Regions from separate parts of the Homo sapiens genome. Here region 2 is linked to region 1. Evidence: fine-mapped expression QTL. A gene starts in region 1. The other region holds a variant in brackets. All regions are shown on one strand. Distances are between the middles of the regions. Region 1 holds the start of SLPI (secretory leukocyte peptidase inhibitor). Region 2 holds the start of LINC02597 (long intergenic non-protein coding RNA 2597).

Region 1 (5,378 bases):
ATAGTACTGTCACTTTTTCAGCATGTGTTCTGTATGTAACCCAGGAGTTTATCTCATTTCAACGCTAGGTCTCCTCCCCCTGCAAGGTGCTACTTGGGGCACACTCCTAGTAGCGTATTTGCCCGAGCCTAGGTTCCTCAGTCTGGAATAACCCTTGCTGGAGGTGAGAAAAGTATGTAGCAGAATGGTCCAGTGAGGTTTGGGGCATTCCAAGTCTTTCAAAATAATCGAGAGTGGGCACTGACGTAACATGGTTAGTCTTTTTGAGGACTCCATTTGCTGTGAGTTGCAGATAATCTTAATTTTTCTGAGTGTCCAGAGAGTGTTGGTTGGATTAGACAACAGACAGACCTACAACATATCAAGTGTGAAAACCAATATATATATCGTAACACATACAGAGGTGAACACAGGAATCTGCCCCAACAGTTCTGTATGGCTTTAGATGAAAACCCCCTGGATTAAAATAGCTTAACTGTTGGCAGGATCTCTTATGCATAAACTCGTCTCAGGAAAGTTTTTCACCTGCAGTTGACAATCCTGCCAGAGGCAGTAAAATTGAGGTTTCTGATTCTTCATGTTATTGTACATCCCTAATCCCATTGAAATTTAGGAGATAAAATCACTTGTCCCAAATCACAGAGTCAGCACTTTCACACTCATGATATAAATTCAAGTTCCCCCAGTCCCTAAGCCTCTTCCTCCCACTACGTATTCATAGGAAGGAGGCCTCATATCTAGATCTTCCCTCACAGCTTCCCACCCCACTCATACCCCCAACGAATCACAGAAGCAGGATGTGCAAAGAGAAATAGGCTCGTTTATTTATTCATTGATCAACTGGCACTTCTTGAAAGCCTGCTGTGTGCCAAGCCTTTCCCCAAAGGAGGATATCAGTGGTGGAGCCAAGTCTCAGGGTGGAAAGGACCTGGACCACACAGAGCAGGACTCCAGAGCCTCCTCCATATGGCAGGAATCAAGCTGTGAGAGAAAATCAGATAAGAGCTTCAGCATAGAAACCAGCCAAATCATATCCACATCCTTCCTCCTGCCCAAGGATCCTTCTGAGATAGAGAAAATAGCAAGATAGCGCTATAGTTGAGAGAGACTTAGTGTCAGGAGACAAGTCTCATTTTCACCGTAAAACTCTAAACTCAAAGCATTGAACTAGATAATCCTCAAACTCCACTGATCCTTTGTGATTTCACCTCAGAAAACATGATGGAAACAACCTGAATAATAAATTCTTAGTGCACATAGTGCTTTGCAGAGCACTTTCAATCTCATTATGTACATTTTACCGATAAAGAAACTGAGACTCAGAAAGACACTTGCCCAGGACCCCCACCCAGAGACACTAGAATAGAATCAAAGCCACAGGCGATCCTATGGAAATCCTGGCCCTGAGACCTGGAGAACAGTTCTCTTGAAGGACAAGGGAGTCAGACAGAGGCTGTGCTTGGAGTAGGGTTCAGGAGTCCCCCTGCCCATATGCCTGGGCCTCCAGAGGGTTGAGGCTGAGAGGGCTGGAGGGAGCTCAGTGTGCCCTCATCCCCTGCTTACCTTTCACAGGGGAAACGCAGGATTTCCCACACATGCCCATGCAACACTTCAAGTCACGCTTGCACTGGCCATCCATCTCACAGAAATTGGGGGGGTTAAGCATCAAACATTGGCCATAAGTCACTGGGCACTTCCCAGGCTTCCTCCTTGCTGGGTGAGAGTGAGGCTACCGGTCAGAGGCCTTGTACTTTATACAACCCCTCCCATCCCCACTTTTTAGAGTGAGCCCCTGCTCCAGCTTCAGCAGGGGGGATCATCCCCTCCCCACCTCTATCACCACCACCTTCTCCCTAAGGCGGCCCCCAAACATAGCACCTGGCTCTCCTAGAACTTCAGGCCCCCCATTGATGCAGGTGGCCAGCCACCCAGTGCTGACTAGGTGGGAGGCTTCCAACTACCTGGCTATCTAAATGCCCGCTGCTTCACCAGCTGCTGGCTACCTTCCTGCTTAGGGCAGTGTGACTCACTGACGGATTGACAAGGAGGCCTGGCAGGACCCATCACCCAGTTCCATCCCTCTAATGCTGTGTCCCCAGGCTCACTCCTCTCTACCCAGTTCCCCGACCTGCTTACTTGGGTTTGGGGTGTCAACAGGATCCAGGCATTTGATGCCACAAGTGTCAGGACAACATCTCTTCTTCCCTGGACACTGCCAGTCACTCTGGCACTCAGGTTTCTTGTATCTAAGGCACTGGGCAGATTTCTTAGGAGGACAGACTCCAGCTTTGAAGGCTTTTGAAGAGAAAGTCAAGAGGTCAGGAGGAGGCTGGGTACTGAGGACCCATCATGCCTCCTGAACAAAGCACCACTTTTGAGGGGGAGAGACCCTTACCTCAGTAGCTGTCCACAAAGCCCAAAGGGTCATGCCTGCCTGATCTCCAGGTGTATTGATGGGCTTGATTAAATTAGACAAATGGACAGGGGACGTTTCACACCCAAGAAAAGGGCAGCAGGCTTCTAGTCAAGACCTCCCACCCAAGAGCAAAACAAGGCTACACAAAGGCAGAGAGGAAGGCTGGGAGTGATGGAGATGGAGAGAGGTAAACAAAGATAAATAGAACCAGTGTGAGAGAAGTTGAGAGCTAAAGCCCAAGGCAGAAGCACAGAGACAAAATAGCAGAAGCAAAGACACAAGGAAGCAGAGTCAGAAACTAATGATTTGAGAGTCGCAGACAGGTGAAGAAGAAGGCGGAGTATGAGAGAGAGAGAGAGAGAGAGAGAGAGAGAGAGAGAGTGGGACCTGGGCTGACAGCATGGCTGCATAGAGGAAGCATTTCCAGAAGCTCAAACTGTCACACAAACCTTGGAGCTCAGCCAGACATGTATTCCACCCTCAGGGAGGTCTCCCGAAACTAAGCTGAGGGATCAGAGCCTACAGAAGGGGACACACCCACACCACAAGGAGACCCCACCTCTGACCCTGCAGCCCAGATTAGACCAGAGTGACTCCAACTTACACTTTCCAGAGCCTTCCACAGCCCAAGGTGCCAGAGTTCCCAGGGCAAGCAGCACCAGGAAGGGGAAGAGGCCGCTGGACTTCATGGTGAAGGCAGGAGTGACTCTGATGGCCAATGCCAAACCTCACTATTTATTCTTTCACCAGTGGGTGTGGCCCCACCAGAATTCTTTCGGCCTCTCCCAGCTACTATTGCATAAGCAGGAAACGTAGCCAGAGACCAGAAATCCTGACACCAAGGAGATTGTTTATCTTTCCTATGCCAGGTAAGGCTATGAGGCCAACACAGCAACTATCAGAAAAGAAAGGGAAGAGATTGGCCTGGGAAGTTGGTTGATTAAAGAGGCCATCTCAGTGTCCATCTGAGCCCTAAACATCACAAGATCCCAGGCCATTAGCCTTATAGGTGGAGAGAGGGAAGAAGTGGTCAATTGCAAAGGTGCTACCCGGACCTGGAACTAAAACCAGACACAGACTCCCTGCTGAGACTTTGTGCAATACATTCTATTCTCACATTGCTAATTCTGATTCTCACATTACTGGACTCTCAGGCATTGTGAAACTCTGCTGATTACTCAATGCAGTTTCTTTCTCAAAAGTTCAGCTCGTTCAACCAACTGATACTTAGTTCCCTGAAATATTTACACCGTTATATCCCCAGTGCCTGTTCTGTGCCTGACACAGGAAAAGCACTCACAAATGAAAGCTGAAGAAGAGCTCCGCTCTCCACAAATCTCTCTGGAGCTCAGTTGTCTCAGCTGTGAAATGAAATGATACTAACAAGTCAGCCCTTCTCAGAGGGTTATGAAATTAAGGGCATGAAGGGACTCTGAATGAAAAGAACAAATGAATAGTATCCCTTCCCACTAAAGAGAATTGAAATGAATCTGAGATAAAGGGGGAAAGCAGCTCATCAGTCACTGTAATCTACATTTAGCTGTGAGATAATTTGAGATCTTAGAGGATTGCTTCCTAAAATTCCCCAAAATCCCTTACAGATCTCACATGACAGCAAAAAATTAAACCCATTCTATTTGCTACCCAGTCTGCATAGGTTGCTTCTAATTATAAAGAGAGCGACCATTATCTCTAAAATTCAGCCCATAGCTGAGTGTAGGGTCGCACACTTGCTGTCTCAGCTGCCCAGGAGGCTGAGGTGTATGGATTCCTTGAGAGTAGGAGTTTGAGACCAGCCCTGGCCACATATTGAGACCCCATCTCTACAAAAAAATGTAAAAAATTAGCCAGGCATGATGACGTACGTATGCCTGTAGTCCCAGCTACTTGGGAGGCTGAGCCAGGAGGATCGCTTTAGCCCAGGAGTTTGAGGCTGCAGTGAGCCATGATTGTGCCACTGCATTCCAGCTTGGGGGACAGAGCGATACCCTGTCTTAAAAAAATAAAATAAAATAAAATTCAACCAAAGCTCATCTAGCTACAAACTCCAAGCTCTTGACTCATTATCTTCATGCTTGGAATTCTCCCATTCATTCCTAAGGTGAAGGTTTGTGGAACTTTCCACAGACATGAAAGACCCACTCATTATCAAGTAGCGATGGCCCCACATGAAGTATTTAAGTATTCCACAACCAAACAGGCAACTGGCAGCAGATCCCTTTATACAAAAGTCACTCCATGGTTTGAATTTTGGTGGATCAGAAGACTTGGACATAATCAATCATCAGTCAAATTTTGGTGGAAAAAGAAAAGGAAGAAAATTAATATGCACAAGGTAACTACTATGAGCCAGGTGCATTCACTCTTAGTTGGAGTACTTAGTAGGGTAGGTAAGAGAGAAATGGAGGCTATGATTTCCACCAATGGGTAATGACACTCTCAGGTCAAGATTTTTGTTCTCACTTCCACCACCCAGGGGATAATTTGATTTCTCTCACAGAGTTCCTGTTCTCTCTCTCTCTCTCTCTCTCTGTTTGTTCCTATTTTCCTCAGTGCCACACTCAAGAAATTATCTGGAGTTTTCTAAATATTTATTTCTTAAAGAATGAAAAGGGGCTGGGCACGGTGGCTTATGCCTGTAATCCTAGCACTTTGGGAAACCAAGGTGGGCGGATCACTTGAGGTCAGGAGTTCAAGAGCAGCCTGGCCAACATGGTGAAACCCTATCTCCACTAAAAATACAAAAATTAGCCAGGCAGTGTGGCACACACCTGTAATCCCAGCTACTCAGGAGGCTGAGGCAGGAGAATCACTTGAACCCTGGAGGTAGAGGTTGCAGTGAGCTGAGATTGTACCATTGCATTCTAGCCTAGGCAACAAACTGAGACTCCGTCTCAAAAAAAAAAAAAATTAAAAGGAAAATGCTACAGCTTAAGTTTTTTTTAAATCTGTGATTGACTGA
Region 2 (5,378 bases), 76 kb before region 1:
GAAGGGGGAAGAAACAAATACTCAAGGGAACTCTGGTCCAGTAGACCACCCCAAAAAAGGAAGAGCCTTCCAAGAGTGTAGCTCCCAGAGGTGTACCTTCCCTACTCAGGCCATGGTTTGAGGATGCTGCAGTAAGCAGTGGATGGACCCAGACCCAGAGGAAAGACATGGCAGCTGAAGCAGAGGCTTACTGGGTATAAATGTGGGCTCGTTTCTTCTTTTAACAGTTCCTGTTAAAGGTCAAGACACTGTCAAAGGCCGTGTTCCATTCAATGGACAAGATCCCGTTAAAGGACAAGTTTCAGTTAAAGGTCAAGATAAAGTCAAAGCGCAAGAGCCAGTCAAAGGTCCAGTCTCCACTAAGCCTGGCTCCTGCCCCATTATCTTGATCCGGTGCGCCATGTTGAATCCCCCTAACCGCTGCTTGAAAGATACTGACTGCCCAGGAATCAAGAAGTGCTGTGAAGGCTCTTGCGGGATGGCCTGTTTCGTTCCCCAGTGAGGTGAGCACTAGCTGGAGAACGAGGAGACCCCTGAAGACACAAAAGAAGGCTGAGCGGTGGGGAAGCATCCCAGGTTGGTGGGAGGGAGGTTGTGGGAGGTGACAGAAAGACTGGGAGACTGAGGGGTCTGAGAGGCTATAACCAGAGTGCCTAGAAGGATGATCTGTCTTCCTCACTGCCTCTGAGTGCTTTGATGTGCTGACTCTCACCTCTGATACTCTTCTCTTCCACAGAGGGAGCCGGTCCTTGCTGCACCTGTGCCGTCCCCAGAGCTACAGGCCCCATCTGGTCCTAAGTCCCTGCTGCCCTTCCCCTTCCCACACTGTCCATTCTTCCTCCCATTCAGGATGCCCACGGCTGGAGCTGCCTCTCTCATCCACTTTCCAATAAAGAGTTCCTTCTGCTCCACTTGTTTCTGGTTCCTATGACTTCTGGGCTCCTGGATGCTTTGGGGAAATGGATGTAGAATTGGGACTTCTTCTCTCCAGTGAAGAGGGGAAACGGTCCCATGGTGAAAGAGAGCAGGGCGGGGGGAGGAAACAGGAGGCACATTGCTAGGGCTTCATATTACAAATCCAATAATCAGCCCCAGTGCTGCCAGCTCCTTTTCACCAGGAAATGGAAATATGGAAATCTTGCCTTTGGCCAAGGACCAGGAAAAACACAAAACACAAAAAATAAATAAACATTACATAAACCATAAGCAGGTCTTTTTTTTCCAATCCACCATCAGTCCTGACCTGGCTACTGTCGGCCTTACCAGTGTGACCAGCCAACCCTTATGGCTGCAACTACAGCTCCCCACTTCCTTCTCATTAATGTTTCCCAGGAATCTATATCTTTTCAACACCACATAGAAAGGATGATGTTACAGATGCTGCGAAACTCCTGCTCTTTAGAATTTCACTGGTTTATGCCTGAGATTCCTCCATGAAGTAGCATTCCTTTAGGTTAAGCAATATTCTCTTCCAGATTTCTGTTTTAAGATGTGAATGAGGAGGCAAGATACACTAAGTCCTTCATACTATGGTGTCAGAGGTTTGGGTGAATAGCATTCTCTGGAGACATACATGTTGGGGGCAGGGCAGACTTGAGTAGTGGAGAAAGGGGCAGGAATATGAGCAACCTCATGGCTCTCCTGTTGACCCACTCGTCCCACTGCGATTGCACAAGGAAACTCTCAGAGAAGGCCACAGCCCCCAGGAGGGGAGCAGCCTGGGTGAAGGGGAATAAGCACAGGCTTGACAGTCAGGTGATCTCAGCACTGGCTTTGCCTCCCCACGTATTGGGTGACCTCTGGCAAATGTATGTCCCCCTTCCAGGCCTCAGAGGTCTATTTCAGTTGAGGGGGTAAGGTATAATTATTCTGCAAAGGAAGGTCTAATCCTGCCACTCTGGGATATGAAACAGCTCTTCTTTGTGTATTGGGTTCTTGCTCTGAGATGACATGGGGAGCAGAGGCTTGGGGTGAGACAATGTGGATCCCTGCACCACTTTGCCCCATCCACGAGCATCTGAGCCATGATTTTTCCCTATTGTTCAGAGGCTAGTCCGAACAACTGTAGGGCTTTGACACTAGGGTGTCTTGGAGTACAGGTGACAGCAGTACCCAAACTTCTGGCTTGACAAATACAAAATACATCATTGGAGGAAATAATGGTTTCTGTTTTTTAATATTTACTCTATTTCCTATACCTAGTAGATTACATGTATTGTCACTTATTTTTCATAAGTCCCTTTCAGATGGCCATTATACATATTTTATTTTCTAATTTTGTAAAAAGATTGAAGCTAAGAGAGATTAAGTAACCATTAAAAGCCACAAGGTTAGTAAGTGATAGTAAATGATATTTTTATTATATGCTAGCAACAATCAGTTAGACATGCTGCATTTTCTATTATTAATATCAACAAAATCACACCATTGCTATAAATAAACAAGAGAGAGGCAGAGCTTTAGAAGAGAAATCTATGTAACTTTTCAGAGGCATATAAAAATGCTTGAATATACACATACTCACAATACATGAATATGCACATATCACAATACATGAAGACTATGTGGTGAAGATGTCACTATTTACTCAATATTTAATATTTATTTAATTTATCCCTAAGGTGTATTATACCCAAAATCCATTTTTAATATGGTGTGGTTATGGAGGTTAAGGGAACTTGAAACCATACTTAAGTTTATGGGGAAGCATAAATTCTTGTGAATAGGCGTAGATGTTTACAAATGAAGATTAACCCTAGGGCTCTGGAACCTCCTAGACTTAAAAAAAAGTTTTGCAAAGTAACAATAATCAATATGTTGTTTTTATTAGAAGAATAGTCAGGTTGAGAAATCAATAGAAAACAAAAGAAAACCCAGAATCAGGCCTCATTATATCTAATTCAGGTAAAGATCAATGTCAAGTTCCAAAACAATGAAGAAAACTTGAATTTTTTAAGAAACAAGATTCAGACGGTAGGTTCACTATTTGCAAAAACAAAAGAACTAACTCTGGTCTGAATTCAGGCAAAGATTAAGCCACTGAGAGAGAAAAATTGAAAGGTTCCAAAAAGACACTTTCTTTTCGCTCAGGAAGCAGGCCAGGATGACAGTCCATGCCTAGCAAGGTAGCTGAGCAACTCAAGATCTCACAGAGACCAGTGGTTTCTTCCATCCAGGATTTGCTGTGGAACAGAGAC[T/C]GTAATTCCTTTCATGTTCAGTCAGGCAGGGACACATCTCCCAAGAAGACCCTGCCATTTGGAATAGTCCTCTGACTGCAGTAGGAGAGGGTGGAGCTGATACTGGGCCCCTCAGGATCTGCTGTGGCACAGTGGCTGGAGATCCCGATCTCATTGGCTTAGAAGGAGTGCACATCTTCCAGCAAGTTCCTGCGGAGACGTAATAGTTTCCTGATTCCAGCAGAAGGAGCTGAAGCTGGGAATGGCCCCACCTTGGGATCTGCTGTGGGATGGAGGCTGGAGAGTCCATCTTGTTGGCCAAGACAAGTACATATCTCCCTGCAAGTCTCAGCACCGAAAGGATAGTTCAATTACAGCAGGAAGTGTCAGAGCTGAGACTGGATCCCATCTCGACCTGCTGTGCAACAGAGGTTGGCAAGCCTGTCAGGGAGGCTTAGGATCTTAGGCTATGAGATATGTGTGAGTCTCCCTCTGGGTTGTTGTGTGAGCAGCTCTGAGCTGGGACCTCAGCTGATGGGGGCTGGAGCTGAATCACAAGGCAACTTTCAGATTCACTGCCCAGTCAGTGAGCAGAAGGGCCTTTCTGCCAAAGCCCTAGTGTATGTGATTCATTCTGGACCCCACAGCAGATGGGTTTGATTGCAGGCTCAAGGCCAAATGTAACCAAACCCCTGAATGGGCCATTTCTGGGATTGAACTCTGGAGCCAGCTCAGTGGATCAGCCACGTGGGTGTTGGTCTGCACTCTCAATATGACCCTCCAAGGTCTTGGGCTCCACCAGAGTTTCACAAACTTCCCCCTGAATCCAGATCCAGAGGCTCCCACAGAGAGACTTTGGACTGTGGATGAGTGTAGAATTCTTGTCATTCTGGTGGGACATGAGCAGGTGCCTTCTATTTCACCATCTTGGTTATGTCATTCCTTCCTCAGCAGTTTTTTTGGTCGATTTTGCAAAGCTTTAAGTTTTACAGTGGGGCTGGAAATAGCAGGAGAGTGTGAGTTCCAGCCCTGGGATTTGTTGTTTGCTCCCTTTTCACTGACAGGTATTTTGTATTTTTGGCATTCTTTGTTTTCAAGTTATGTTGAGGATGTGGTTTTGTTTAGAAATTTCTTGGTGGTGGTGTTATTTTATACCTCTTGGGGTGGAGATTGTGGAAGTTACTTATTCTTCCTCTTCTGCCTTCTATTGTCTTCAACTACCCCAAAAAAATCTCCTGGAAACTACTCTCTGAAAGAAGTTGGAGAAAAATTATTAATGCACTTGAAGAAGATCAAGAAAAAAGAAAGCGTGAGTAATGTTTTGGGTGAGTTTGAAAGAAGCTATTTTTCTTGCTTCCATTTCATTGCTTCCCTCTGCAATAATTCCGGGTGTGATCCATGCATTGGATGTGTCCTCTAGACTCAAACCAGATTTCAAAAGCAGATATGGGGTACCAGTTCTCCTAACTTCCCAAGCAATGAGAGGTGCTGTTACTAGGGAAGACAGCCTTGTCCAAGGAGTGCTGGAACCAGACAAGGGCTTGGAGACCCAAGGCCTCAAAGAGAGATACAAGGCCCCAACATGTTTCACTTTGCTGTCCCTGCATGGCCTCCCTAGAGATATTGACACCTGATTAACAAATCTTGAATGGCATAAAGGACAACAAAATGACTGTGGGGAGATGTCATTTCCCTCCTTACTTTATCACGATTGCACAGACCCCTGAAGGGAGAAATGCATTTCCTAATTTCACTCAGTAAGTCAAACCCAGAAAAGAACTGGTTCTCTGATTCCCAGACATGGGTTCGTTGTACAATTGTCTGAAAATAGCTGACTTGATCAAATTGTTTCAAATGTAATTTCTATAATTCCAATTGATGCCTCAGTATTTGTCTCCTAATACTTGGAGTCTTTCATTGTTTTCCAATTGTTTAGAATTTCAAAGGAAATTATTAATTAATAGAAATAAGGAATTCACAGCATGATGAGGGCCCAATTTGGGAGATGTGACTTTGGACCAAGTATCTTTTTTTTTTTTTTTGCGACATCTAAGCTTGGTCCTGCCCACCTAGGAGGCTGTGTAACTGTGCAGAGAAGGGAGTCTTTCTACCCACGTTAACTTATCCAGCTTCAAGTCCCTTCCAGGTACCCTCTGTCCTCCGATTCCCTTCTGGAATTCAGGAACAGGTAGTACTATGTCA

Evidence for each region. PIP is the estimated chance that this variant, and not a neighbour inherited with it, causes the effect. A credible set is the group of variants that fine-mapping cannot tell apart.
Region 2: its variant is the best candidate, but not a certain one, in a credible set for the expression of SLPI in whole blood (TOPMed, PIP 0.50).

What each region holds. Positions count from the first base shown.
Region 1 is chr20:45,251,439-45,256,816 of GRCh38, forward strand. It overlaps SLPI (secretory leukocyte peptidase inhibitor), which reads right to left and starts at 3,126. Exons shown (of 4, transcript NM_003064.4): 1 at 3,021-3,126; 2 at 2,137-2,295; 3 at 1,564-1,713; 4 at 801-981. The coding sequence starts at 3,105. The coding sequence ends at 977. The region is part of intron 2 of LOC105372630 (a long non-coding RNA gene); the gene reads left to right.
Region 2 is chr20:45,175,634-45,181,011 of GRCh38, forward strand. It overlaps PI3 (peptidase inhibitor 3), which reads left to right. Exons shown (of 3, transcript NM_002638.4): 2 at 228-503; 3 at 737-911. The coding sequence ends at 502. It overlaps LINC02597 (long intergenic non-protein coding RNA 2597), which reads left to right and starts at 4,354. Exons shown (of 4, transcript NR_187568.1): 1 at 4,354-4,501. RefSeq lists an enhancer at 1-58. The variant T/C (reference allele first, on the strand shown) is at 3,198.